3 separate regions of the Homo sapiens genome follow, and regions 2 and 3 are each linked to region 1. Evidence: fine-mapped expression QTL. A gene starts in region 1. Each other region holds a variant in brackets. All regions are shown on one strand. Distances are from middle to middle. Region 1 holds the start of CDC42EP4 (CDC42 effector protein 4). Region 2 overlaps CDC42EP4 (CDC42 effector protein 4). Region 3 overlaps SDK2 (sidekick cell adhesion molecule 2).

The links. PIP is the estimated chance that this variant, and not a neighbour inherited with it, causes the effect.
Region 2: its variant is fine-mapped to the expression of CDC42EP4 in whole blood (TOPMed, PIP above 0.99).
Region 3: its variant is fine-mapped to the expression of CDC42EP4 in whole blood (TOPMed, PIP 0.95).

The regions. Positions count from the first base shown.
Region 1 is chr17:73,307,498-73,317,249 of GRCh38, forward strand. CDC42EP4 (CDC42 effector protein 4) reads right to left here and starts at 4,504. Exons shown (of 2, transcript NM_012121.5): 1 at 4,396-4,504. RefSeq lists silencers at 3,253-3,382, 3,393-3,942, 4,393-4,652, 4,723-4,882.
Region 2 is chr17:73,284,704-73,294,455 of GRCh38, forward strand. CDC42EP4 (CDC42 effector protein 4) reads right to left here. Exons shown (of 2, transcript NM_012121.5): 2 at 1-1,909. The coding sequence starts at 1,797. The coding sequence ends at 727. Among named protein-coding and RNA genes, the nearest start is that of CDC42EP4, 22 kb to the right of the region's middle. RefSeq lists enhancers at 6,223-6,442, 6,733-6,812, 6,787-7,081, 7,065-7,946, 7,213-7,282 and 3 more. The variant G/A (reference allele first, on the strand shown) is at 4,748.
Region 3 is chr17:73,367,392-73,377,143 of GRCh38, forward strand. SDK2 (sidekick cell adhesion molecule 2) reads right to left here. Exons shown (of 45, transcript NM_001144952.2): 37 at 1,016-1,202. Among named protein-coding and RNA genes, the nearest start is that of CDC42EP4, 60 kb to the left of the region's middle. The variant C/T (reference allele first, on the strand shown) is at 4,550.

The DNA of each region.
Region 1 (9,752 bases):
AATGCAGTGGCGCGATCTCGGCTCACTGCAAGCTCCGCCTCCCGGGTTCACACCATTCTCCTGCCTCAGCCTCCCAAGTAGCTGGGACTACAGGCGCCCACCACCAAGCCTAGCTAATTTTTTGTACTTTTTAGTAGAGACAGGGTTTCACTGTGTTAGTCAGGATGGTCTCGATCTCCTGACCTCCTGATCCACCCGCCTTGGCCTCCCAAAGTGCTGGGATTACAGGTGTGAGCCACCACGCCTGGCCCTGAATTTCTCTCTTTTTTTTTTTTTTTTTTTTGAGATGGAGTCTCACTCTATCGCCCATGCTGGAGTACAGCAACCTCCACCTCTTGGGTTCAAGCGATTCTTGTGTCTCAGCTTCCCCAGTAGCTGGGATTATAGGTGCACGCCACCATGCCCGGCTAATTTTTGTATTTTTAGTAGAGACGGGGTTTCACCATATTGGCCAGGCTGATCTCAAACTCCTGACCTCAAGTGATCTGCCCGCCTTGGCCTCCCCAAGTGCTGAGATTACAGGCGTGAGCCACTGTGCCCGGCCCTAATGTCTGAATTTCCTTCCCAACGCACTCAAGCAAAAAGGGCTGTGTCCAGTGCCACATGCGGGCTCCTTCCAGCACTACCATCCAGTTCCCTGCCGAGAGAGGGCACGCATGGGCTTGGCCTTCCTAGAGCACCCCAGAAGCACTGGCTGGAGTTGGCCTTCAGGACACTCTGCCGGATGACCCCTCAAAGTGTCCCCAGCTCCAGAATTTGGTTCTTTTCCTCACGGTCGGGAAAAATCCTCCAGTACGTAGGTCAGAAGAGCTACGCAGAGCTCAGGTCAGCTCTGTTTCCAGGGCGAGATTGCTCAACCCTTCTCCCTCCGCCCACAGGCCTTATCTCTGGCATCAACCCAGCTCCCCATTCCTCCAAGGGACGGACTCCTCCCTCCCCCCACAGGGACAAACTCCTCTGAGTCTGCAGAACCAGAATGAGAACACAGAAGGCTGGACTTACTGCTAACCAAGTGCAACCCTGACCACTCTGACTTCTGACTTCTTCACTTCGAACCCAATCCAAACGTAGGGGCGTGGGGTGGGGGAGAGTGAAAGGGAGAGGCCAACATCAAACACCTTTTGGCCACACCTGCGCACAGACAGTCCGGGCCGCAGAAATCAATCAGTCACTCCAAAGGGGTGGAAGCCCTGGGCCACTGCCAACCCAAGGCCCTTCTGGAAAAGCTCTGGACTTGTTAAGAAGGGTTGGCCAGGGCTGGGTGCAGTGGTTTACGCCTGTAATCCCGGCTCTTGGGGAGGCCGAGGTGGGTGGATTGCCTGAGTTCAGGAGTTCGCGACCGGCCTGGGCAACACAGTGAAACCCTGTTTCTACTAAAATACAAAAAAAAATTAGCCGGGCGTGGTGGCATGCACCTATAATCCCAGCTACTGCAGAGGCTGAGGCAGGAGAATTGCTTGAACCCGGGAGGTGGAGGATGCAGTGAGCCAAGATTGTGCCACTGCACTCCAGCCTGGGCAACAGAGCAAAGCTCTGTCTCCAAAAAAAAAAAAAAAAAAAAGGGTTGGCCAGGTGCAGTGGCTCATACCTGTATGCCCAGCACTTTGAGAGGCCGAGGTGGGGGAAGATCCCTTGAGCTCAGGAGTTCAAGACCAGCCTGGGCAACATGGTGAAACCCCACCTCTACAAAAAATACAAAAAATGGCTGGGCGTGGTGGTGGGCGCCAGTAGTCCCAGCTACTCAGGAGGCTGAAGTGGGAGGATAGCTTGAGCCCAGGAGGTCCAGCCTGCAGTGAGCCTTGACTATGACGCTGCACCACAACCTGGGTGACAGAGCAAGACCTGGTCTCAAAAAATTAATAAATAAAATAAAAATTATTTTTAAAATCAAAAGACTGGTGTAAGATTCCTCTCCCAGGTCAACACTCACTCCCCTGACCTTTATACATGAGACCTCCCTTTGCTTCTGACTCCTTGGTCTCTGGTTCTGTGAGGTGCTGTCGGGTTCCAGAGGCAGCAGCACAGTGGAGGCAGGGTACAGAGGATGGGGACAAGCACGGTGGGTGGGCAAGGGAAAGAGAGAAACGAGGGGAAAAGAGAAGAGGAATCCAAAAAGAGAGAGGCAGAAACCCCAGAAAATGGAGAATCATTCACAGCACAGGCCTAGGCTGTACAGCAGAGCAGGAGCAAGCTGCCCTCTGTGTGCAGGGACCCTAGGACTTCAGGGAGATTTCAGAGGGGAGGCGCTGAGACTCACCCCAGAACCACCGCCCATATGATCACAGCGGGCCCCTCCTAGTCCCTGCAGGGGTCCACCAGGATGCCTGGGAATCCACTTGGGATCTCCCCAAATTCACTGAACACCCCTTGTGGGAAGGAGCAGCTGTCTTCAAGGAGTGGAGAGGCAAAGTCCAAGTTCAGAGGAGATAAGCCACCCCACTAATCAGTCAGTCACATGTGCAGCTCACACAGGGCAGTTGATGAGAGCAGGAACCGGCAGGGCACCCCCGCATTCAGTAGGCACTGGCTTCTCAGCAGAGATAGAGCCTCAGGAGATCCTGGTGGATGCCCTGTTATTGCCCCAGGAGCCCCTGGGGCTGCCAGGGGCTCTCTTAGGGCCTGGCTCAGTCCCAGCCAACTCCCGATTTCTGGGAGAAATCAGAAATCCGCAGCTCAGCAATCCCTTCCTTTGTGGCCTGTTCTTTGTTCTCTTAAAATTCAGTCCACCCTGCTGGTGGTCCCTCCTCCACCCTAGCCTCAGAAGCGGGCGGGGGCTGAGGGAGTTATTGGAAACCCAGACTGCCAAAGAAGTCGCCTTGCAGGAGGCCCCTGTCACCGGCCCCTCATTATTTACACTCGCTGGATGGGACATTTCTCTGGTACAGATGGCTGCTGGGGTTCGGACGAGAGAGAGATTTTCCCTCCAGCACCCTGGACCCTCAGGGGAGGGCAGGGGGCTTCGCAGCGACGGGGGCTCCCAAGGACTCCACCCGGATCCAGCTGCTCAGCTATCTGGGCAAACAGTGGGCACCGGGCACACAGTAAGGGATGTGGGAGCCGGTCAGATTGCAAGGGGTGGGAGTCGTGGAGAGAGAGAAGTTCCAGAGGCAACGAGAAAAGAAAAGGCATTGTATTTCCCCTCCATTCTCCCAGGGAGAAAAAGAAAACTTCCAAAGCCGAGGCCGCAGTCACTGGGAAAACACAGGGAACCTGGTTTGAGTTAGCAGCGAGCACCCCTCCCCCAGTCACACACACACACACACACACACACACACACACACACACACACACACACACGCACTTCAGTCCTCTCCCAGGAAGCTGGCTCAGCCTCAGCCCCGGCTCCCGCCCAGCTCTCCAGCCCTCCCGGCCGGGGCACTCACCGGCTGACGGGATCCCCGCGGGCAGGATGGCTCCTGGGGGACGCGCCGGGGGCAGGGGGCAGTTTTGTAACCCCGGCTGGGGGCGCTCCGGAGAGGGGGCGGGGCCAGGGACGGCCGATCCGCGCGCACCCGCCCCAAGCGGGCGATTAAATCATTAACCGACCGCTCCCGCCTGCGATCCCGCTGAGCGCGCTGAGCTCGGGGCGCACTAGCCCAGGAGCGGCCGTCTCCCCGGCTCCAAGGGGGCGGGTGGCTCGACTGCCCTCCCCCCGCACCCCGCCAGGAGGCGCCTCGGCCTCCCGGGCTTCCGAGGGAGCGGGCGGGGCGGGAGCCTGGCGGGGGAGGGAAGGGTTCGCGGGGCGGGAGTAGGGGAAAGGAGGACCATTTGTTCCTTCGGCCATTCCCTTCCAGACAGCTCCTTCCCTCTGGCTTCCCGGCCGGGTGACATTGGGTGGCGTGTGCTGCAGTGTGTGTACGAGAGCGAGATGTGTACACGCCTCTGCCCGTACAGGCGGAGAATTCGGTTCTTATTCATGGAGAACTCCGGGCGCACACACGCCCCCCTCGCGGAGATCGCGGGCCGCGCGCCGCCGATTGCTGCGCTCCTGCCCACACCGACACACACCCCATTCCTGGGAAGGGGGAGGCCCTTTAAAACCGGCCCCCAACCCCCTCAGCGGCACCCTTGGCCAGGGCCGGGAGTTCCAGCGTGGAGAGAGGAAATGGAGTCCCGGCAACGCTGCGCCCGGCTCCCTGCCACCTCCTCCTCCACACATCCCGCTCTGCCAGGACACTAGGTGCGCAGCTTAGGGTCCCAGGCACCGCGGTGGGCGCGGTGAAAAGCGCGAGCGCCGAGAAGTGGGGGCTCCGCGCCCTTCTCCCCGCGCCGCGGCCTCGCATCCCCAGCTTCGATCCTCTCTGCCCCACAGGGGGACTCGAGACCCCCAAGCCCACCCAGGGCACCCAGCGCGAAGGCGGCTACCACAGACAGAGGCGGTTGCCCGTCGCCTACCTCGGTCCCCGGAGACCCGAGCTCTGGGCCGGCTGCGCTGTCCCCTTCGTGGGCTCCGCGCGGCGGAGGGGCTGGCGGCCCCTGTCAGCGCCGGCGTTTGTTTCCCTCTGGCTCTCGGGCTTTCAGGGCTGGGAGCCTCCAGGACACTCCCCTTCCAGGCTCCGCCCGCGCCCGCCCCGCGCAACCCTCCCCGCGCACCCCTCTGCGCTGATGTCACGGCGCCGCAGCAGCCAATGGCCGTCGGGAACCTCTGCCCGACTGCTCGGCCTCCTCGGTTCAAACTGAAAGCCTGAGACTTTCCCAACTCCGTATGGGGCAGCCTGGGCCCGCCCGGCTTCCGGGAGACACTCCCGCCCCAGCCTGCGCTCCGGCCGCGAACCCCCACTGGGGCCCCCAGGGCCAGGGGCGCGTCTCCCTCCGGGGGCCTGGCGCGAGGCTCTTTTGAGGCTCTTCCCCATTCGAGCCGGGGCAAGAAACCAAGAACTCCAGCCCGGGTGGCGTTCCTCGTTCCTGCTCCCTCCCGGACCTGCTAACCACCTGGCTGCAGTACTGTCGGGAGATGGGGCAGGAGGGCTGGCGCCACCAGCTTCGTGGGTGCCATCCCAGACTCTCGCTGTAAACGAGGGAGCGGGGAGGAGCCGGCCAGCCCCGAGGCCAGGCTTGGACTGGGCGTCAGAAATGTTTCTACAGGGTGACAGCCCTTGAGCTCCCCGCATCCCCGTCTGTGCCTTTGCCTCCTAAGTATCAGCTGAGGCTAAATTTGCACCAGGTGAACGTCAAGGAGGATCAACTCCTGAGTCCCAGAGCCTGAATCCAAGTCCCAGGCCTTGGACTCTATTCTTTTTAGAGGAATAGTTTCAGTTGAAATGATCATTATCAAGGTAGAATGCCAGCTGCGAAGTAGTCAACTAAAGTGGACAAGGCGCAAAGTGAAAAGTTCCCTTGCCTCTAGCTGAACCCCACCCTCGGTTTTTAAAGGAAGTGAGGGTGAAGGCCCCAGACTTTCCCCATGGCTGCGAGGTCCCTAAGCCCTCAGGAACATTCTGCTTTCTGGGGACAGCACATTTCCGTTTCCCTCTGCAGTGCGACAGCAACCAGCTCTTGAGAGCTAATGGTTTGGCCACTCCATCCTGCTGTGAAAATTAAGTTCTGGGCTGGGCGCAGTGGCTCATGCCTGTAATCCTAGCATTTTGGGAGGCCAAGGCAGGTGGGGGGTCACTTGAGGTCAGAAGTTTGAGACCAGCCTGGCCAACATGGCGAAACCCCATCTCTACCAAAAATACAAAAATTAGTCGGGCATGGTGGTGGGCGCCTGTAATCCCAGCTACCCAGGAGGCTGAGGCGGGACAATCGCTTGAACCTGGGAGGTGGAGGTTGCAGTGAGCCGAGATCGCGCTATTGCACTCTAGCCTGGGTGACAGAGGTAGACTCCATCTCAAAAAAAAAAATAAATGAATAATAAGTAAAATCAAATTCTGAACTGGACATCTGGAGGGAAAGGTAGGGTTTGGAGCCACTTGGGAGGCAGACACTGTGGATTCAAACCCTGGCGGGGTTATCATGGATGTAAACCAAAAAGTGACTAAGGCAGATCTCAATCAAATAGAGGTTTAGTTAGCCAAGGTTGAGGATCCACCGGGGAAAAATCACCTTTTTTCCAAAAAGGTTTTGGGAACTTCTGTATTTAAAAGAGAAAAAGCAAGCAGGAAAGGAAAAGAAGAGGGAGAGAGGGAGGAAAGGCATTGAGGTCACAAGCGTGTGAGGCTCTGATTTAGTGTCTGTAAGTCTACATTTTACATGTGAAAGGGAATAGAAGAAAAAGTCAATGATGCATTGTCTCCTACTCAGTACGTCTAAGGGGAGCAAAGGAAACCCTGTGTCAACAGGGTTGTGAAACTGCAGCTATCTGGGAACAAAAGGAAAGCAGCTTCTGTGGTTTCCAAGCTTAACGTCCCCCCCAGCCCCGCCCCTTTTTTTTTTTTGGAGACAGGGTCTTGCTCTGTTGCCCAGGCTGGAGTGCAGTGCTGCAATCGTAGCTCACTATAGCCTTGGCCTCCTGGGCTCAAGCGATCCTCCCACCTCACCCTCCTGAGTAGCTGAGACTACAGGTGTGCGCCACCATGCCCAGCTACATATTTTGTACTTTTTCTTTTGTAGAGACAGGGTTCTGTCATGTTGCCCAGGCTGGTCTCAAACTCCTGAGCTCAAGCAATCCACCCACCTCAACCTCCAAAAGTGCTGGGATTAAACTTTCCCTTTGACATAGTGAATTTGGGGTCCCGAGATTCTATTCCCTTTCACATGGGGAAGTCGCTAATTCCCACCTCTGACCCTTAGCTAGCCTGGCTGTCCTTATGTGTCCAAAGAGCACAGGACCCCTCTGCTAGCCTCGTCTGGAGGGTGTAAAGAGGAATGAGATATCAGGTGTGAAAGCGCTTTATGACTAGAAAGCAACCAGAATGGAGGTGATTGCTGTCATCATGACCTAGTGCCAAAGGTGTCCTCAAAAGAAGTAGGAGCTGCAACAGGACTGTGGGTAAGGCTCGCTGGATAGAGGTTTGGAGACGCCTCTGGATTGGAATTCTAGCTCTGCCATTTATGAGCTGACAAGTTATCCACCAGCTTCCCCATCTGTAAAGTGAGAACAGCAATCTCTACCTTCCCCTATTGGGGTGAATATTAAAAGAGATCACTTAGGCTGGGCGCGGTGGCTCATGCCTGTAATCCCACTGCTTTGGGAGGCTGAAGCCAGTGGATCGCTTGAGCCCAGGAGTTCAAGAGAAACCTGGCAACCTGGCGAAACCCCATCTCTACAAAAGTATACAAAAATCAGCAAGGTGTGGTGGTGCATGCCTGTAGTCCCAGCTATTTGGGAGGCTGAGATGGGAGAATCCACTTGAGCCTGCAGGTTGAGGCTGCAGTAAGCCAAGATCATGCCACTGCATTCTAGCCTGGGTAACAGAGGGAGACCCTGTCTCAAAAAACAAACAAACAAACAAACAAAGGCACCTGGCCATTTGCTGGGCATATGCAGGCCCTCAGTGGGTCTCCTTCTACCACATTGCTTCCAGGTGGAAGTCCTCCCTGGTTCCTGGCGTTCCAGGACCTCTTTCTCCTGAAATCATAGCTTAAGTTAAAAACAAAAACAAAAAAAAAACGTTTCTTATTTTCTCTGAGACATCTCCCTCTCCCCATCTCTTTCCTTCCATTTTAAATGAAGTATTTCGGTTTTCTTAGGGCTAGCTGTTAGTAATCTGTTTTCCTTTTCCCAATTATCATCCATATCTATTAAGCACACCTCCGGGACAAAGTCTTTAGGTCCCTTTGTAATTCTGCTCCTTACCCAAATTCAGGCTCCTTCCACAAACATTTAACAACAGTGGAGGCTTGCCTTTGGGGACAAAGACAACGAAGCCCAGTCCCTGCCCTCAGGACGCCTAGAGTAGAAACAAACTGCTTCAGGGAGGGGCTCCGTAGATGCTTCTAGACTGCATCCTAGCCCTCTGAGGGAAGATGTGATTAGAAGATCATTTTCTTTGATGGTGGGAATCCCAGACCTGTGGATTTCTCTCCGAAGGATCCACTGAAGCAAGTTTTGCTCCAACCCGTTAGGCTAGAGCTGTCTATGAGTAACCAGAGGAAATTAACAAAATAAAAAATCTGAGGCTTGAATACATACCTACTTGAAATTTCTGGCAAGCTCTAAGCCCCTGACTTTGGAGAGGGATTTGAGGTCTTAACTGCACCCTTGGTGTAACTTGACCTGTAAGCCTTTAGGCCTAGGCGTGTGTCTCTGCCTGTCTGGGGCCGCTGGGGCCTGCCTGCCTCTGGGACTTGGGCATGCATGATCCTTGCAGCTTCATGGACTTGCCCCTCCCTAATATCCACCCCCAACCCCCAACACATATTAGGTAGATGCAAAAGTTATTGCGGTTTTTGCCATTACTTTCAATGGCAAAAACCGCAATTACTTTTTTGCACCAACATACCACATCCCAGTGTTTGTTAACATGGAGTTCTGGGCATTTTAGTTCATGTTATTTTGTCCCAGCTCTAAGAGGTTAATTAGTCCTATTTCCTTTTTTTTTTTTTTTTTTTTTTTTTGAGACGGAGTCTCGCTCTGTTGCCCAGGCTGGAGTGCAGTGGCATGATCTCGGCTCACTGCAAGCTCTGCCTCCCAGGTTCACGCCATTCTCCTGCCTCGGCCTCCTGAGTAGCTGGGACTACAGGCGCCCGCCACCACGCCCGGGTAATTCTTTGTATTTTTAGTAGAGACGGGATTTCACCACGTTAGCCAGGATGGTCTCGATCTCCTGACCTCGTGATTTGCCCGCCTCGGCCTCCCGAAGTGCAAGATCACAGGCGTGAGCCACCGCGCCCGGCCAATTTGTCCTATTTCCTTGGAGGGGCTGGAAGTTCCACTCATTCCAGTCTGGTGTTTGTCCTAAAGTATGACTCTGGGCAGGTCATTTCTCTTCGTGAAATAAGCTATCTCCCCAAGCAAGAACACTACAACTTTCTATGTCTATTCCCCTTTTTTTTTTTTTTTTTTTTTTTTTTTTTTAGGATTCTTGCTCTGACGCCCAGGCTGCAGTGCAGTCCGCAATCTCAGTTCACTGCAGCCTCCGCCTCCTGGGTTCAAGCGATTCTCCTGCCTCAGCCTCCTGAGTAGCTGGGATTATAGGTGCCCACTACCAATTAGCCAATTCCTGGCTAATTTTTTTTTTTTTTTAGTAGAGGCAGGTTTTACCCTGTTGGCCAGGCTGATCTCGAACTCTTGACTTCAAGTGATCTTCCCTCCTCTGCCTCCCAAAGGACTGGGATTATAGGTGTGAGCCACCGTGCCTGGCTTTCAAGTCTATTTTGAGCCCCCCTTCCCCTATTGAGGTGAGACAAGATGGTCCTGGACTGAACCTCAAGGTGCCACCATGGCTTGATGTCAGCACAGTTTGGGTGGAGCCTTGGTGATCCAGGTCAGGAGCCCATCAGCTGGGGTGGCCTGGCGCTGGGCTGTCCACTCCCATGCCTGCAAGAGAGAGGCTCTTTCACGCCTTGCTTCCCCGTTCTTGGGAACCACCTGGAGCCCTTTCATGGGGCTGGGGCAACCTGCTGAGCAGCTGGGAAAATCCTGAAAATACCAAACTACTGGCAGAGTGCCTGGGGCTCCAGACAAGACTCCTCCACCATGGTGGGGAAAAGTACCTGCATCTGGGGGCTCTTTCTGCCCCAGGTTTCAGGGGCATAACCCTGATTTTCTGGGGGAGTTCACGCACATCAGGGGGCTGGGGCAGCCAGTGCATGCCTAGAGAGTAAAGCAATACGATTTCCCCTTGGCCTCCCTGGGGACAGGGTGGTGT
Region 2 (9,752 bases), 23 kb before region 1:
AGCCCCTAGGGACTGAGCGAGTGCCCTAGCCCTGTTCCTAGTGTCATCCTGGAAGGGTCCCTTCTTGCAATTCACGAAGCCTGGGGGGCTTTCCTTCCATTCTCCATCCTGTTCTCTTCCCCTGGAAAGGGCTGCGTTTAGTGCACATGCTCGCAGCTGGCCCCCCGTCCAGCTCAGCTCCAAGGGGCTCCAGATTTCCAGGGCAGGAGCTGGGGTGGGGCAGGGAGGGGCTGAGAGGCAAGACCGTCTCCCTCCTGCTGCAGCTGCTTCCCCAGCAGCCACTGCTGGGCACAGCAGAAACGCCAGCAGAGAAAATGGGAGCCGAGAGTCCTTAGCCCTGGAGCTGAGGCTGCCTCTGGGCTGACCCGCTGGCTGTACGTGGCCAGAACTGGGGTTGGCATCTGGCATCCATTTGAGGCCAGGGTGGAGGAAAGGGAGGCCAACAGAGGAAAACCTATTCCTGCTGTGACAACACAGCCCTTGTCCCACGCAGCCTAAGTGCAGGGAGCATGATGAAGTCAGGCAGCCAGTCGGCACCCATGCCAGCCCCCTACGTCCTCCGAAGACCCGAGGGCCAGGCCAGTGTCCCTCATCTACAAGGTCCAGGGTCCATGGTCTGAATCAAGGGTCCTGGCTGCCCCTGCGCCGTAGGGTCAAAGGTCATAGTGGGGTGGGGGCAGGGAGAAGATGCAGCCAAGAGCTCCCGGTGGCCACCCACTGTCCGCCTCACACACGGATTTCATCCTCCTCCTCCTCATCCATGAAGGAGAACTCCTTGTCTGGCTGTCTTGAGACAGCAGCCCGGGCCCTGTCCGGCCCCCGGAAGGCAGGGCTGCGCTCCTCCAGGATGCCTGAGGTGCAGCTGGAGAGGGAGCTGCTGTCCCGTGTGGTGTGGCTGCCCATGCTGCGGGCTGAGCCGGGGCTGGGGGCCGCTGCTGCCCACCCCTCATCCTCCAGAGCATGGGAGGGGAGGGAGGGCAAGTCTGGGCCAGCCTTGCCTTCCTGCCTTGCCAGGGGAGGGGCCGCCACGGCGTACGGGGGAGCCTGGGTGATGGTGCCAGCGGCGCCCTCATCGCCATGGTAACCACCCTCCCCCTCCTCGGGGTCCCACTCCTCCTTGTCCATGATGCTGAGGACGTCACCCAGCATGGAGGGCCCCAGGTCGATGTGGAAGGACATGATGGACTCCGCATGCTTCAGCCCGTACGTGGCCTTGGGCACGACAGGCAGATCTGTCAGATCCCCAAAGGCCTGCTCATCGAGGAGGGGGTCAGGGGAATGTGGACCCGCGGCCCCATTCCGACGGGGCACTGCCTCCTCCGTGCCCGCCTCCTCATCGCCGCCCTCCCCGTCATTGGCCTTCTTCACGGGGCTGGATGACAGGCTCTTGGGCAGCTTACTGGTGCCCTTCTCCGCGGCCTCCTTCTCATTGAGCTGGGGCAGGGACATGGCATTCTTGACAAACAGGGCCGAGTCCCGCAGGGAGCCCAGCATGTCACGCTGCTCCCGCTCCCCCCTGGTCACCGACTGTGACCGCTTGCTGCCCCGGAACTTCCTGGACAGGAGACTGCGTTTGGAAGATGAAGAAGAGGGCTGTTCGTCCAAGGACTCGCCGTCGGGCTCGCCAGCCTTGCTATTGAGGAAGGAGGTGTCCCCAAAGGCGTCTCCGGCCCGGCCAACGTGCATGGTGTGGCGGAAGTCGCCCAGCGGGGCGCTGATCATCTCGGCCGTGAGGTCCGCTCGGGAACGGCGCTTGGAGTGCACCGAGCTGGACACCAGTTGCTTGAGGATTGGCATCTTGCTGGATGGGCGGGGAGGTGGGCCCTCCCGAGGTAGCCGGCAGGTCTGGGGTCAGATCTGAAGTCCAAGTCCAGTGGGCAGAGGGGGACGCAATGAGGAGATCATAAGGCTGCAAGCAGAGAATGAGAGGCAAAGGATTAACGCGGGCTGGCCACACGGCACAAAAGCCTCTTTGCCAGGGGACTGTCATTTAAACCCCAGCGCTCCTACCAAAGTTAAATGCTGTGAAATAAGCCAGCAATCCATGGTATAACCCTGCCTGTTTCTTCATCCGCAGGCATTCAGAGTAGAGGAGTGATTTTGCAAATCTGGTTAGAGTTCCAGTAGCCTCGGACACACTTTCCCTGAAACTTGAGAGAGACAGAACCTTTCTTGCAGAAGACAATGCCTCCCCTGCCCCTGCAAGCCAGGATGCTGCCAGAGTAAACATGACCACATTTAAGGACGCGAAGGTAAATCCAGCAATTCCAGGCAGCAAGCCAGGGAAGAGATGGAGTCTATGAGTTGGCTCCTATGAACAGTCAGCCTGGAGATGTGCTGTAAGTTCTTCCTGCTGTCTAACCTCGATCCCTGTGGAGTTAGTGGACACCCCACCCTGAGTCCTGGTCCTCAGAGAGAGAAGGGAAAGGACAGGACGGGCTCAGGGAGACAGAGGCTGACCAGCTCCTCCCCCTGCGTGGGCGGCACAGTCCTCTTTCTGAATCAGAACTGGGGTGGGGCTGCTGGGACCCACAGAACCAGCTCCCCAGCCTTTCAGCCTTCGCTTGGTATCCCATAAATGAGGATCCCGCCTGTGACGTCTCCACTGTGGAGCCCCAGGCTCTTTGCTGAGGGTCCACCTTCTGGTGTCTCGGGGAGATCAAGATTGGGCAACTTCCAGTTTCTTTCATCATTAGGGGAGTGGGAGGCAGGGACTGGACCCTAAATGACTTCGTCCCCCCAGGATCTGCAGACTGATTCCTAGGTGATTCACCAGAAATCCAAAAAACAGCAGAGGTAGAGCCCAGGAGCCTGGAGGCACCACTCTCACAGCTCCTGACAAGGGCCAAGTTGAAGTTCAGCATTGGGGCCAAACCAGCCCCTCTCTTCCCTAGAGGGGCTTGCCCCAAATACTAAGCCCAGCAGAGCTGGGCAGGTTGGGGAGAGATGGGTGCAGGGATTTAACAAAGTATGGTGGGTGAGAGGTGATGCTTGGACACCAGGTACCTGCCTGCCTCCCAGTCCAGCCAGCAGCACAGTTCTGAGAGGCACCCCCAGTCCAGACCCACTCTTCCCACTGCAAAACTCAGATGCTGGGTGCTTCCTCCGCATGCCTGCCGCTGCGTCACACAAGCCCACCACACCCCACCTGGCCCCTGACATCAGCCTGACAGGTCTCCCTGTTGGTCTCCCTCCTGTCCATCCTTCACCTCTTGGCTAAAACAAAACCCATCCACATGACGCCCTACCCAGTGCAGACCCCTTGATCCAATGACTAGTCCCCACCTCGCTCCTCAGTGTCCCCTACTTTTGTACCCTGATCTATCCCCTGAGCTGCAGTGGATACAAACAGTTCCCCAATGCAACCCCTGCCACACCCAGCATCCTTCAGGGCTCAGCTGGGACACATCACTACTCCCAGGAAACCTTTAGCCACCACCTGCCCCCCACGGCACTTTGGGAGATGTCCCCTCTTCCAGCAGATACTGGCTACATTATTCTGTCCCTGCTGGCTGGACTCTCATCTTCCCACTGCAGTACAAACTTCTAGGGTTTTGAGGCAGATTCTCGCCCTGTCCCCCAGGCCGGAGTGTAATGGCATGATCTTGGCTCACTGCAACTTCTGCCTCCCGGGTTCTAGCGATTCTCTTGCCTCAGTCTCCTGAGTAGCTGAGATTTACAGGTGCACACCACCACGTCCAGCTATTTTTTTTTTTTTTTTGTAATTTTAGTAGAGATAGAGATGGAGTTTCACCATGTTGGTCAGGCTGGTCTCGAACTCCTGACCTCAGGTGATCCACCCACCTCGGCCTCCCAGTGCTGGGATCAGGACGTGGGATCAGCGTGAGCCACCGCGCCTGGTCCATCCAGAGGGTTTTAACAGGTCTGTTTACCACCGAGTCTGGTCCAGCAGGGTGTGACACATGGTCCGCCTCCAACCGCCTCCAAGCACCCACTGGAAGTCCAGCACCTCCCTCCTCTCCTCCCCTTCTGCCCACAGCCTGGCTCCAGGGCTCCCAGCCTGACCTCTCTGCATCCTCACCCCCATCCGCTTCCCTGTTCTCTCAAGCCTCTGCTGCCCAGCCTCATGGCTTCCCCCACCAGCAATGTCCCCCCTCCCAGTGCCCACGCCATACCGCTTATCATTCCAGCAAACACAAAGTTCTCTCGGGCAGGGAGGGGGAGCCAGGCACCTGGCAGACTTGCCACACAGTGACGTGGGCGAGGACGTGAGGGATGCCTTGAGATGATACTCTACTCTGGGTCATAGGTCAGCTCTCTCTCCTCCCTACCCTTAGGAAAGTGACCTTCCCCTAACTCTAACTTGGATTATCTCTGGGCCCCACCCTCCTGCCCCACCTCAACCTCTAAACAATTAGACATTGAACCGCTAGACCAAAGGTCAGCAAACACTTTTTGCAAAGGGCCAGAGAGTAAATATTCTCGGCCTTGTGGCTGATAGGGTTTTTGTCACAGCTACTCAACTGTCTTCTTAGTATAAAACTAGCCGTTGGCCGGGCACAGTGGGTCACAACTGTAATCCCAGCACTCTGGGAGGCTACGGCAGGAGGATCAGTTGAGCCCAGGAGTTCCAGACCAGCCTGGGCAACACGGTGAGACCCCATCTCTACACAAAATCAAAAAAAGAAAGAAAGGAGCCATAGCAACATGTAAACAAGTAGGCATGGCTATGTTCCAATAACATTTTATTTACAGACAACTTCTGGGTTGGTGAGCAGATCGAGGT[G/A]CCAGGAAGGTGGTGCGTGCCCTGCCCCCCACCCCAACACTTGACCCCACGCATCCTCATGCAGCTCTTCCGTTTGGCTGTTCCTGAGTCGTATCTTTTGTAATAAACCAGTAAAAGAAAAAAAACCACCAAAAAGCCACATCTTTATTTACAAAAGCAAACGCAGGCTGGGTTTGGCCCATGGACTGTAGTTTGCTGACTCCTGAATATCATATATGACCCTCTTGGCCAGCCATGGGCTCCTAGGCAAAACTCTGAAGAAAACAGGAAGGGAGGAAGGGAGGGAGGGAGGAAGGGAGGGAGGAAGGGAGGGGAAGGAAAGGAAGGAAGGAAAGGAAATAAGGAAAGAAAAAAAGAAAGAGAGAAAGAAAAAGAAAGGAAAGAAGGAAAGGAAAGGAAGAGAAGAAAGGAAGAAAGGAAAAGAAAAGCAAGGAAGGAAAGAAAGAGAAAAAGAAGCAGCAGAAGAAAAGAAAAAGAAAAAGAGAAGGTAGACTCTGCCTCAGTCACGTTGGGCATAGAAGGGAAAAAGGCCAAGCTTCAAACGAACTCTCGTTCCTGGCAAATCCTTCAGGCTTCTACTGCCACCAGCAGGGACACCAGTCAGGAACGGAGGGGACCCCATCTTCCACCTGCCTGCACCCCGACTCCTGGCTCTACGCACAGCATCCAGGAATCTCAAAGAACTGGAGGGGATATTCAGTGCAGCACTTTCACTTTATGGATGAGGAAACAAGTTTATTGAAGGAAAGTGATTTATCCAGGTTTTTAGCCCAAAGCAACAGAGCTGGGCTAGAAACTGGGTCTTTGAGTCCAGAGCTCTCTCCGCTCCACTCCAGGCCCTTCTCCAGCTCTGGCGGCGGCATTGCTGGTCAGTGACCACCGACCACTGAGTGCTCCTCCCCACTGCTGGCCGGCAGGGTACAGAGAAGGGGGTACCCAACAGCTGCTTCAAGAAGGTTCTTGTGTAATCCTAGAGCAGGTTCCACACTGTTGCTATTTGGGCCAGATAATTTCTCATCGGGAGGTGGACCTGCCCTGTGCACTGTAGGATATTCAGCAGCATCCCTGGTCTCTACCCATTAGATGCCAGTAGCATCCACCCCCCAGTCACAACAAGCAAAACTGTCTCAAGATATTGCCCAATGTCCCCCAGGAGGCAAAACTGCCCCAGTTGAGAAACAGCAGCCTTGAGTGAGAACACACAGGTGAAGATAGAGCAGGTATGCTCACCAGGTAAACAACAAAGACAGAGAAGCAGGGAGGCGGGTGTGGATGGTCAGAACCGGGTGAGAACATGGCGGCACGAGCCCCCAGAGCTGCGTTAAGGGTTTCAACGCCAAGGCAGGAACCCCCAGACCCTGTGAGTGATGTCAGGTCCTGTGGTTTCCCGATCTTATACGCTCATTAGAGAGGAAAGAAAGGGAAACCACAGACCCGGCTCCCCAGGACTCACCAGAGAAGCTGCAGGTCACTGTGGCTGCCCAAAGGGACCAAATATCCTGGCCATGATGGCTACAGGGGAGGACAGCTCCCCGCATCCCATTAGCCACACCACCCAGCACATCCTTGCGGGTAGAACTATTGAGGTAGGTCAGAGGGGACAGCAGGGAAACTCAGCTGAAATCACGGCCATCCTGGGCTAGCCCTGGGGTCCCCAGGATCTTGTTCAACCCCACACCCCAGAAAGACAGGGACAGGTCTACCCAGTGCTGCCTGCTGCCACGGTCTCGCTTCCTGGGGGGTTGGGAACGAGACTTTGTGGCTTGTAGAAAGCCATCTTCAATAACCAGCAAGGAAGGGTCCTGAGAGAGTTGGGGCCTAGAGGGAGTCACGCATCTGTCCCACTGCCCCAGCGAGGAGGGGGCTGCAGTACCTGGCAGTCCACACTGGGGATGAGGCCTGGGTGTCTGGAGCTCAGACTAGACAGGCCACCCAGCAGGATTGAGGGTCAGCAACAGCTTGGTTTCACCAGCCTTGAGTGACCTTGAGTCACTCTGAGCTTCTAACAGAGAACAGTTTGGAGGTGACGAGCTGGATCATAGAGTTTAAGAGAAAGTAGGTGGTGGGAGTCTCGCCAGAGGCCTGGGCAGGTCCTGGGGGCAGCTATGGTTTGGGAGGCCACAGGGCATTGTGGCTTTGGGCGGGGCTTTCAGAAGCATGGTGACTCAGCTCTGGGGAAGTGGCTAAAATAGGCTGCCCAACGTGGGGCAGGCACTCCCCATAGCCTGCCTTGGGCGGGACACCCCCACCCCACCCCAGAAACCACATCCCACTTTCTTGGCAGGGAGAGGGAAAATGGATCACAGCTCACAGCCCTCCCTAGCTCTCCTGAGCCTCCGGAGGAACAGATTCCTCTACCCTCAGCCCACTGACCACGGAACCTTCCTTTAAGGTGGGAACGAGGAGCCCTCCCCAGAAGGTCAGGCCCCTGCTTGGGTCACAGCAACCACACCTTTAGTTCAGCCCTGTTCCTGAGACTACGGAAGACCACCCTTGCCTGGACCCCTCGCCTATCCTCCCTGGCCCTCCCAGCTTGGCCAGCCCAGCAGACCCAGAGCAGAAGGACAGACGGGACCAACACTTCTCACTCCAAGTGACCGGGCAGTGGCCTGTCCCTGGCAGCTTGGCTTGAGGCAGGCGCCAGACCTGAGCTCTCATGGGGCAGCTAGGCAGGCCTCGCTCTCTGAAGCTGCCCTGCGGTTCACCCCGGTATACAGGGTACACAACATGCCTCAATGCCCACTGCCACTGCCTCCGCCACTGCTGCTGGGCAGCATGCCCTCTGCAGGGCCTTCCCCTAGCTGTTCTAACCAACCACCCGATGCCAGGTCCAGGCAATGTGGCCGAATAGCAGAGGGCTTTTAGTGCACGATGACTTTAGTTGTGACCTGGATCGGCTACAAGAGGCTTTGTTCCATTACTCATCATCCAGTCACTCACTCCATGACTTCCTGCAGACCCACTGATATTCACAAACTCTTCTAGGCCCTGGAGATAGAGCAGTGAAAATAGCACGCTGTTTTCCCAGGGCACGTGTGTAGTGTGAGTGTGGGGGGTGGGGGTGGGGAATGGAGGTGTAAACCTATAAATAAAATAAATGGTATCTCATATTCCTCAGTATAAGGAGGGAAAGGGGTGGTATGAGTGGGTGTGGGAGTCAGGGGGTCTGGGGGAGGCCCCTCTTGAGGAAGGAGCATCATGAGTTGAGAACCAAATGATGAGAAGGAACCAGCCGGGTCAGAAGCGACCCAGGCAGAGGGAACGGCGCGTGCAAACGCCGGGGTATAGGAACAGGCTTGTGGCATTTATGGAATAGAATAAAAATCCATGCAGCCAGGGCCCAGGTTACATAGAGCCCTCCCTACCAGGCCACATAAAGAGTTCTGTTTTGTTTTTAGTTTTTATTACAGGCACCTGCCATCATGCCCAGTTAATTTTTGAATTTTTTGGAGAGACCAGGTTTCACCATGTTGGCTAGGCTGGTCCTGAACTCCTGACTTCAGGTGATCTGCCCGCCTCGGCCTCCCAAAGTGCTGGGATTACAGGAGCCACTGCTCCTGGCCGATTTTTTTATGTTTTTAGAGATGGGGTTTCACCACGTCGGCCAGGCTGGTCTCGAACTCCTGGCATCAAGCAATCCACCCGCCTTGGCCTCCCAAAGTTCTGGCATTACAGGCATGAGCCACCGCACCCAGCCCAGGTAAGGAGTTTGGAGGTCATTATAGGTGTACAAGGAAACCGGCGGCTGTTTGTAAGCAGGCGAGTGATTCAATCTGTGTATCTGGAAGCTCCCGGAGGTCCTGGCATTGGAGGAATGAAGGAGGGGAGCTGGAATTCAGTCAGGAGGCTGTTGCAGAAATGCAGGTCAAAGAGGATGGAGACCAGGATGTGGGTCTGGCGAAGGGGGACACAGTGGGAGACATTTAGGCCATGTTTTGGAGGTAGAGACACCCGGGATTGTGGAGGGCCCAGACCAGGGAGGAGAGAAAAGACAGGATCAAATGGGACTCCAGGCCTTCCAGGGGCAGCCTCTGGTCCTGGCCATCCTTTCCCAGGTTTTGCCTGGCAGGCCACGGCCCCTTCTCACAGGAGGGGCTGACATCCTACCCCTAGGCGGAACTTCACTTTGCCGAAACACAGGTGGCATTCTGCTACACAAGGCTTGTCAGATGGAACAGCACGCTGGAGGGGGTTGTGCAAGAGGCTCACTGGGACATGGGCCACAACTCTAAGAGGTGAGGGACTCTGGCTTTAGTCACCAGAGAAAAATCCAGTACTTTCTGGAACACTCACCAGCCTTACCCTGCAAAGATAGGAAAGCACAGGGAAGGCGGAAGACTGTGTTTCATTCAAACTGTGGCAGGGCTGAGGGCAGCTAAGTGAATGGGCGAGAACAGTGACCGCTTAGATACACGTGGTTACATGTTCCAGGCAGGACTTCAATGCCGACTGTGTTGTGATTTTAGCTGACTTTAGTATTCTTGGGGATCTTTTAACTCCTTCATGTGCCCTGCTCAAAAGCCCTTGCATCTGGAAGTGTGCTGCGTGCGCAAGGAGGTTAAGGCTCACTGCTGTAATATTCTGAGCCTAAGTAACCACAATCAAAAACCAAACACAAGGCCGGGCGTGGTGGCTCACACCTGTAATCCCAGCACTTTGGGAGGCTGAGGCGGGTGGATCTCCTGAGGTCAGGAGTTCGAGACCAGCCTGGCCAACATGGTGAAACCCCATCTCCACTAAAAACACAGAAATCAGCCAGGCATGGTGGTGTGCACCTGTAGTCCCAGTTATTCAGGAGGCTGAGGCAGGGAGAATCGCTTGAACCCAGGAGGTGGAGGTTGCAGTGAGCTGAGATCGCGCCACTGCATTCCAGCCTGGGTGACAGAGCAAGATTCTGTCTCAAAAAAAAACAAACAAAGAAACAAAAAAACAAACCCAGGATGGGAACATGAAATGTCACCATCAGGACTCCTGTACCATTTATGTATCTGTGTCAAATATCTCC
Region 3 (9,752 bases), 60 kb after region 1:
GCGTTCCCGGGTTCCTCTCCAGCCCCTAGGCCTTAGCACCTGCGGTTCCCTCTGCCTGGAGCCCCCAGCACCCTCTGCCACCTCCTGAGAGCATCTCATGGCTGGCCTCTTGTCTTTTTTTTTTTTGGGACAGAGTCTTACTCTGTCACCCAGGCTAGAGTGCAGCAGTAGCACAATCTCGGCTCACTGCAACCTCCACCTCCCGGGTTCAAGTGATTCTCCTGCCTCAGCCTCCCAAGTAGCTGGGATTACAGGCACGTACCACCATGCCTGGATAATTTTTTATATTTTTAGTAGAGACAGGGTGTCACCATGTTGGCCAGGCTGGTCTTAAACTCCTGACCTCAGGTGATCCACCTGCCTTGGCTTCCCAAAGTGCTGGGATTACAGGCGTGAGCCACCATGCCTGGCCCCTGCCGGCCTCTTCTCATTCAAATCTCACCTCCTCAGGGAGGGCTTTGTGGGTGAGCCTATCCAGAGCCATCCACCCACTCCTGCCTCACTCTTAGGTCACCTGTGCTGACCCCCGTCTGCATTTACTTCATCAACTTGCTTATGATCTGTCCCCCGCACTAGGGTGGGGACCTTGCTGGTCTCACTGTTGTGTCCCTAGCATCTAGCATGGCACGGGCTCATAAGACACTCAGTATTTGTGGAATGAACAAAGCCAGAGAGACAGAGGGAAGGCAGGTGGGAAGAAGGCAGGGAGCAGAAGTAGGCTGGCTGGGAGGGGCTGGGGGTGCTGACTGTCCGTCTGCAAGGCGGGGCAAACGGTGGGGAGGACAGGGATGAGGTGTGGGGGTTTCTCAAGGCTTTATGGGGACAGCTTCTCTTTTCTGAGAATGGGCTCTCCCACTTGGGAGGGTGTCTCTGGGGACCTGGGTACCACGACCAGATCCTCAGGCGGATAAGGCAGCTGCCCCCATGCCTGCCAAGAGCCCGGATGCCAGGTAGGTCCTCTTGCAACCCCCCGTGGCCGACCTACCCCTCCCCTCCTCAGGGCCCCCTCTCCCACCTGCTTGCTGGGTCTGGCCTTGGGTGGGGGTGCTCCGAGGCCCATCCCCAGCGGCGTTGAAGGCGGCCACGCTGACCATGTAGGCCGTGTAGCCAGTCAAGTTCTTGAGCTTCACGCTGTTCTCAGCCAGGAAAAGCGTCTTCACTCGCTCTGTGAGGTTCCCCCGCTGGGCTTCCCAGAAATAAATCTGTGGGAACAGAAGGATGTGGGAGTGAGGGGGACAGGGGCAATGAGAGTCCCTCCTGTCCCTGCTGACCTGTAGTCTCAGAGACACCTTCATTGCTGTGAGTCACCTGGGAAACAGCGGAGAAGTCTTTAAGAGGCCGGGTGCGGTGGCTCACACCTGTAATCCCAGCACTTTGGGAGGCAGAGGTGGGTGGATCACTTGAGGCCAGGAGTTCAAGACTAGCCTGGCCAACATGGTGAATCCCCGTTTCTACTGGAAATACAAAAAAATCAGCCGGGCATGGTGGCAAGTGCCTGTAGTCCCAGCTACTCTGGAGGCTGAGGCAGGAAAATCACTTGAACCTGGGAGGTGGAGGTTGCAGTGAGCTGAGATCACGCCACTGTACTCCAGCCTGGGTGACAGAGCAAGACTCCATCTCAAAAAAAAAAAAAAAGAATTTAAGAACTGTTTTAGAAACCTTTCTGGAACCTTCCTTTTCACAGCCAAGACCCTGGTCTCTGCCAGACAGTAAACTCCAGGGCATGGCCCCCAAGTGTCTGTGTTTCCCGCCATGCCTGGAGGATTTACCATAGCGCTGGCACATCAGCACTTAGTACAGTTCCTGGAGGAATAAAGCAAATCCGTCCTACGGGAGGCTGAGCTGGGGAGATAAGGCAGTGTGGAGTCTATCCAGACAGAGTGTGGTGCAAGTGCTGGTGGCCTCATGTCACCTGGGAGCTGGTGAGGGATGCAGAGTCTCAGGGCCACCCCGGGCCCGCTGCACCAGCAGCTGCTGGTTAACAGGAACAAGGCCCGCTGCAGAGGAAGGCCTCGGCCAAGACGGCGGGCAGCGGGAGGCTGAATCCCAGCTGCACCGCATACAGCAGCGGGACCTGGCCAGCTGACTTCCCAGAGCTGCAGTTTTGTCGTACATTCAGTGAGGTTAAGGACACGTACTTCCTGGGGTCCGTGTGAGGGGTGCAGGTTCTAAGGGTTTCACCCAGGTACTTGGCCAGTTTCCTAAGGAACCCCGTGGCTGCAGAAGGCTTTAGGCCAGGAACACAACAGATGCTCCCTGGTGTTTTCTCTTCCTTTCTGTTTTTTGAGATGGAGTCTCGCACTGTCACACAGGCTGGAGTGCTGTGGTGCGATCTTGCTCCGCCTCACGGGTTCACGCCATTCTCCTGCCTCAGCCTCCCGAGTAGCTGGGACACAGGCACCCGCCACCACGCCCGGCTAATTTTTGGATTTTTAGTAGAGACGGGATTTCACCGTGTTAGCCAGGATGGTCTAGATCTCCTGACCTTGTGATCCGCCCGCCTCGGCCTCCCAAAGTGCTGGGGTTACAGGCGCGAACCACCAAGCCCAGCCATTGTTTTCAATCATTTCCTCTGTAGCACAGGTTAACACTTCTGCTAGTTCCAGGACTGAGGCCATCCAGATAGCGGCCAGCTGGGCCCAGCCACGTGCAAAATTGGAGGTCATTTGGCGCCCCCTGCTGGCCAATGAGGTTTCTGCATGTCACCGGCTTTTCAATTTCTCATTTCCCTGGAGGAAGCCCATAAAGTGAGAAAGAGCTAATAAAAGTGTCCCCACTGGCATGTATGGGTGGCAGTTAGGACATCTTGTTACCATGAAATCCTTGCTTTTCTCCAATCCCTCTCCCCCTTTATTATTATTTTTTTATTTGAGACAGGCCTCACTCTGTTGCCCAGGCTGGAGTGCAGTGGCACGATCACAGCTCACTGCAGCCTCAACCACCTGGGCTCAAGCCATCCTCCCACCTCAGCCTCCTGAGTGGCCAGGACTACAGGTGTGCACCACCACACCCAGCTAAGTTTTTAATTTTTTGTAGAGACGGGGTCTTGCCATGTTTCCCAGGCTGGTCTTGAACTCCTGGGCTCAAGCGATCCAACCACCTTGGCTTCCCAAAGTGCTGAGATTACAGGTGTGAGCCACTGTGCCCGGCCCTCTCTCCCATTTTATTTTATTTTATTTTATTTCAAGACAGGGTCTCATTTTGTCACGCAGACTGGGGTGCAGTGGCATGATCTTGGCTCACTGTAACCTTGACCTCCAGGTTCAAGCAATCCTCCCGCCTCAGCCCCCCAGGTAGCTCTGACTACATGAGTGCTACCACACCTGGCTATTTCTTTCGTAGAGATGGGGATTTCTTTTGTAGTGATTTCTTTTTTAGAAAGGGGGAGAGGGCCGGGTGCAGCGGCTCACACCTGTAATCCTAGCACTTGGGAAGCTGAGAGAGGGGAATCGCCTGTGCCCATGAGTTCAAGACCAGCCTGGGCAACATGGCAAGACCCCTGTCTCTACTAAAAACACAAAAATTAGCCAGGAGTGGTGGTGTGCACCTGCAGTTCCAGCTACTTGGGAGGCTGAGGCAGGAGGATGGCTGGAACCCGGGAGGTGAAGGTTGCAGTGAGCTGAGATCACACCACTGCACTCCAGCCTGGGCAACAGAACAAGACTCCATCTCTAAAATAACATAAAAATAACGAAAAGCAGATTCTTCTCATATGGATAGATGAATGAAAGCAGAGGCAGTCATGTATGAAATCATTCATTCACTCATGCATTCATACTAATGGGGGTACAACAGTTAACAAAGTTCCTGTTGGATTTGGAAAGGTCATGGCTGATGCTAAAAGTTTGCCATTATTAGCACACAGGTGGTCTTCCGTGAGTGCACACTGGGAGAATGAATGGATTCTCTTAGGTAGAGAAGAGGGCTGTGGATTGATCCCTGGGGGCCTCCAGCATTCAGTGGTTGGTGGGGAGGAAGAGCTAGCGAGGGAAGCTGAGGAAAGCAAGCATTTTGAGAGGAAGGAGAGATCCATGTGTCAAACACAGCTGCTGAGTCAGGCAGGATAAGCCTGTGGTTTGACTCGATATGAGCAACATGGGAATTATTAACAACTTTGGCAGGAAGAGCTTCGGTGGGGTGGCGGGGATGAGAACCTATTTGGAGCGAGTTCAAGGGAGAAAGAGAGCAGAGGAATCGGAGGGAGTGAGTACAGAAGATTCTTTTGAGGAATTCTGCTGTAAAGGGGCCAAAGAAATGGGTGACAACTGGAAGAAAATGTGAGGTCAGGCCAGGTGCGGTGGCTCACACCTGTAATCCCAGCACTTTGGAAGGCTGAGGCAGGTGGATCACCTGAGGTCAGGAGTTTGAGACCAGCCTGGCCAACATGGCGAAACTCTATCTCTACTAAAAATACAAAAATTAGCCGGGCATGGTGGCGGATGCCTGTAATCCCAGCTACTCAGGAGGCTGAGGCAGGAGAATCACTTGAACCCGAGAGGTGGAGGCTGCAGTGAGCTGAGATAGCACCACTGCACTCCAGCCTGGGCAA[C/T]GGAGCGAGAGTCCGTTAAAAAAAAAAAAAAGTGAGGTCAGGAAAAGGCATAAAAAGAGGAAACATATCTCAGAATGCTTTTCTGCCCTGCCCGTGGGAGCTATCCACTGGGGAGGTGGAGGAGAGGAAGGGCCAATGGCTGCAGTCATGCTCTTGGGTGAGGAGTGGGTCGGGGCCTAGAACCCAGGGACAGCTGTCTTCACAAACCAGGCACTCCGGCAGGTGCATCTTGTTTGTGAGCGCTGCATTCTGCGGACCTTTGTTAGCTGATGATTCACAGTGAGAGGGACTGACACGCGTGCAAAGGACATAAAGGGACTGAGCCCAGATCCTGGTTCCCATGGGGCACACTGCTGAGCTGCATGGGGCACATTGATGGGTAACCAGGAGTCTGCCAGAATGCAGGCTCCAGCGGGCAGGCATCTCGGTCCATGTGGCCCCCTTGGGACCCAAACACCTAGAATCATGGCTGGCACATCCATGGTCCTCAATCAATATCTGCTGGATGAATAAATGCCTTATGTGGACAGGGGCAAGCATGGGAGTGCACCATTATAATCACGAACCTGCCATTTACTATGCCCAATTCTCTGCCCTTTCATTTCTTTTTTCAGCTTTATTGAGGTATAATTGACAATCTAAGATCTATATATAGCCGGGCATGGTGGTGGGTGCCTGTAATCCCAGCTACTCGGGAGGCTGAGACAGGACAATCCCTTGAACCTAGGAGGCAGAGGTTGCAGTGAGTGGAGATCACACCACTGCACTCCAGCCTGGGTGACAGAGTGAGACTCTGTCTCGAAAAAAACAAACAAACAAAAAAATCAAAAAACAAAAAAACCCCAAAAAACTGTATGTGTTTAAGGTATACAACATGGTGTTCTGATATACACATGCATTATGAAATGATTACCACAATCAAGCTAATTAACATGTTCATCATCTTTTTGTGGTGAGAACCTTCTGAGCAAATTTCAAGTGTACAATACGGTATCATTAACTATCATCACCATGTTGTACATTAGATCTAGATCGTATTCAGCCTGCTTCACCGAAACGCTGTATCCTGGGACCTTCTCCCTATTTCCCTCACTCCCTCAGCCTCTGGCAACCGCTGTTCTACTCTCTGTTCCTATGAGTTTGATTATTTTAGATTCCACATATACGCGAGGTCATGCAGTATTTGTCTTTCTGTGCTTGGTACATTTCATTTGGCATAATATCCTGCAGGTTCATCCGTGTTGTTGCAAACAGCAGGATTTCCTTCAAGGCTGGATGGTATTCCACTGTGTATAAACCACATTTTCTTCATTCATTCATCCATTCACAGACACTCAGGCTATTTCCACATCTTGGCTACTGTGAATGATGCTGAAATTAACATGGGCCTGCAGATAGCTCTTCAAGAGCCTCATTTCAATTCCTTTGGATAAATACCCAGTAGTGGGATTGCTGGATCATTGGAGTTCTATTTTTAATTTTCTGCGGAACTTCCATACCGTTATCCATAATGGCTGTACTGATATACGTTCCCACCAACAGCGTGCAAAGGTTCCCTTTTCCCCATACGCTTACCACCACTTATCTCTAGACTTTTTGATAACAGCCATCCTTGCAGGTGTGATGGGATATCTCACTGTGGTTTTGATTTGCATTTCCCTGATGCTGAGCGATGTTGAACACCTTCTTAGATACCTGTTGACCATTTATATATCTTCTTTTTTCTTTTTTTTTGAGTTGGAGTCTTGCTCTGTCACCCAGGCTAGACTGCAGTGGCATGATATGGGTTCACTGCAACCTCCACCTCCTGGGTTCAAGCGATTCTCCTGCCTCAGCCAGGTGCCTGCCGCCATGGCCAGCTAATTTTTGTATTTTTAGTAGAGACGGGGTTTCACCATGTTGGCCAGGCTGGTCTCGAACTACTGACCTCAGGTGATCTGCCTACCTTGGCTTCCCAAAGTGCTGGGATTACAGGCATGAGCCACCGTGCCCAGCCTATGTATCTTCTTTTGAGAAATGTCCATTTGGGTCCTTTGCCCCATTTTCTTTCACTTTTGTTGTATGAGTTCCTTACATATTTTGGCTACTAACCCCTGGTCATATGTATGGTTTGCAAATATTTCTCCCATTCCAGAGGTTCTCCCTCCTTCTGGAAGCATGTTCTTCCCATGAGCTCTGAGACATCACTCAGTTTTTGGTTTCAGGGCTCAATTTGTAGACTTCTTTTGTTCTTTATCTTTCCTTGTCTAATCTCTAGCTTTCAGTACCATCTATATGCCGAGGACTCTATAATTCACATCTCTGGTTTGATCCTTCTCTCTTGAACTCCAGACATGCATCTCTGACTCTGTTCTGTCTCCCCTCGAATGTCCAACAGACGTCTCAAACCAAACACATCTGGAACCAGACTCCAGATTTCCCTAGCCTCCTCCTTCACCAGCTTTGTCTTTTCCTGCTCCATCATCCTGTGGACCCTGGGGCTGTCCTTGTTGCCTCCCTTTTCTCCCATTCCATGTTCGATTTGTCGGTAATTTTTTTTTTTTTTGAGATGGGGTCTCGCTCTGTTGCCCAGGCTGGAGTACAGTGGCGTGATCTTGGTGCACTGCAACCTCTGCCTTCTGGGTTCAAGGGATTCTTTTGCCTCAGCCTCCCCAGTAGCTGGAATTACAAGCATGCGCTACCATACCCAGCTAATTTTTGTATTTTTAGTAGAGATGCGGTTTCGTCATGTTGGCCAGGCTGGTCTCGAACTCCTGACCTCAAGTGATCTGCCCGCCTTGGGCTCCCAAAGTGCTGGGATTACAGGTGTGAGCCACTGTGCCCAGCCTGATTTGTTAGCAAATTCTACCAGCTCTGCTGTTGGGACTAACTGAGAGTGGCCACTTCTCACTCTGCTCTCACCTGATCTGAGCCCCCTTCATGGCCCACCCGGATAGTTCAGATGCCTCCCCATAGCTTCTGGGCTTTCCCCATTTCAGACTCTGCTCAGCACAGCAGCCAGCGGGACCCTCTGAAGGTCCCAGTCCTCCACTCAGAGGACTTCACTCAAGAGTGACAGCCAAAGCCCCGAAGGACCCCAGGTGCTCCAGCCCCGGCTTTCCCATCTCCCATTGCGCTCCCTGGAACTCACTCTGGGGACACACAAGGCTCTCCGTATACCCCAAGTACCTGTCTACCCTGAGACCTTTGCTCTTTTTTCCTCTCTTTCTGGATCCATGTGATTTGTGCCCTGTTCTCCTTCAGGTTTTTGCTCAAATATCACCTTCTCATTAAGTCCTTTCCTAACAACCTTTTTTTTTTTTTTTTTTTTTTTTTTTTTTTGAGACAGTCTTGATCTGTTGCCCAGGCTGGAGTGCAGTGGTGCAACAATGGCTCACTGCACCCTCACTCGGCCGGGCTCAGGCACTCCTCCCACCTCCCACCCCGTTGGCTGGGACTACAGGCATGTGCCACCACACCCGGCTAATTTTGTTGTTGTTTTCTTTTTGTAGAGACAGGCTTTTACCATGTTGCCCAGGCTGGTCTTGGACTCCTGGAGTCAAGCAATCCACCCACCTCGGCCTTTCAAAGCGCCAGGATTACAGTTGTGAGCCACTGAGCCCAGCCCTTAACAACCCATTTAAAATTTCAAACCCTGGCTGGGCACAGTGGCTCACGCCTGTAATCTCAGCAATTTGGGAGACCGAGGGCGGATCACCTGGGGTCAGGAGCTCGAGACAAGCTTGGCCAACATGGTGAAACCCTGTCTCTACTAAAAATACAAAAATTAGCTGGGCATGGTGGCAGGCACCTGTAATCCCAGCTACTCAGGAGGCTGAGGTGGGAGAATCACTTGAACCTGGGAGGCAGAGGTTGCAGTGAGCCAAGATCGCACCACTGCACTTCAGCCTGGGTGACAGAACAAGACTCCATCTCAGGAAAAAAAAGAAAGAAAGAAATAAAATAAACTAAACTAAAATAAAATAAAATTTCAGGCTGGATGCGCTGGCTCACTCCTGTAATCCCAGCACTTTGGGAGGCCGAGGTGGGTGGATCACGAAGTCAAGAGATTGAGACCATCCTGGCCAACATGGTGAAACCCCGTCTCTACTAAAAACACAAAAATTAGCTGGGCATGGTGGCAGGCACCTGTAATCCCAGCTACTTGGGAGGCGGAGGAAGGAGAATCGCTTGAACCTGGGAGGTGGGGGTTGCAGTGAGCTGAGATTGCACCACTGCACTTCAGCCTGGCGGCAGAGCAAGACTCCGTGTCAAAAAAAAAAAAAAAAATTCAAACCTCCTCATGGACCTGGCTCTCCCCTAACCTGCTTCATTTACCACCACCTGGCGGTATTATTTATTTTGCCCCGTGTTGGCCTTCCCTCCCTAACATCTAAGCTCACAATGCTGGGCACACAATAACTGCTCAATAAACACGTGTCATTGACCAACTGAAAGACTGGAGCTCTCAGAACGTGCATGAATGTGCCTGCCACGCACCAGTTGGGTGCAGTCTGACTGGAATGCAGTATCAGCTTCGGTGTGCTCATGGGTTGATGAAGTTAATGCGTCACTGATGTTCGTGCGTGTTGATGTCAGTACCTTGGTTATCACAGGTCCAGGAGGTAGCACTTTCTCCGTTCACATCCACAGTTGCCGCTCAGGTACGGGTCATGTTTTCTGGAGCATGTAGGCCTCTGCTGTATTCTGTATGGTGTTGTGCACCTGCACATTTTCCTGGGTCTGTCTATTAACTCACCACTTACAAGCCTCGACAGTCTGGTGGCTGCCACACTGCTGCTGGCGCTGCCCTGGCCCCTTTCTTTTCCCATGGGAGGCATATGCTAGGGGGGCAATATTTAGTTTTCCCAGCTGGTGCTCCTGGGCAATGCCTTGAGGGGTGTCATCCATCTTTAGGGCTTCCTTGGCAACATGCCTTTCCTCCTTCCTTCCTCCTCCTTCACCCCAGATGGAATGAGACTCTTATGCTGGATTCCATCCTAAATCGGGACTACCTGTATTAATGAGCTGTGTGACTTGGGTAAGCTCTTCCCCTTTGCTGACACTCCTCCCACCTGTGGGATGAGGTGCCTTGTGTCTCTCCTACTCCCCACCTGTGGGATGAGGTGCCTTGCGTCTCTCCTACTCCCCACTTAAGCCATGGCACTGGGGCTCTTCTCTGGAGTAACAACCAGCCGCCAAGAATGAGAGTCAACTGGACACT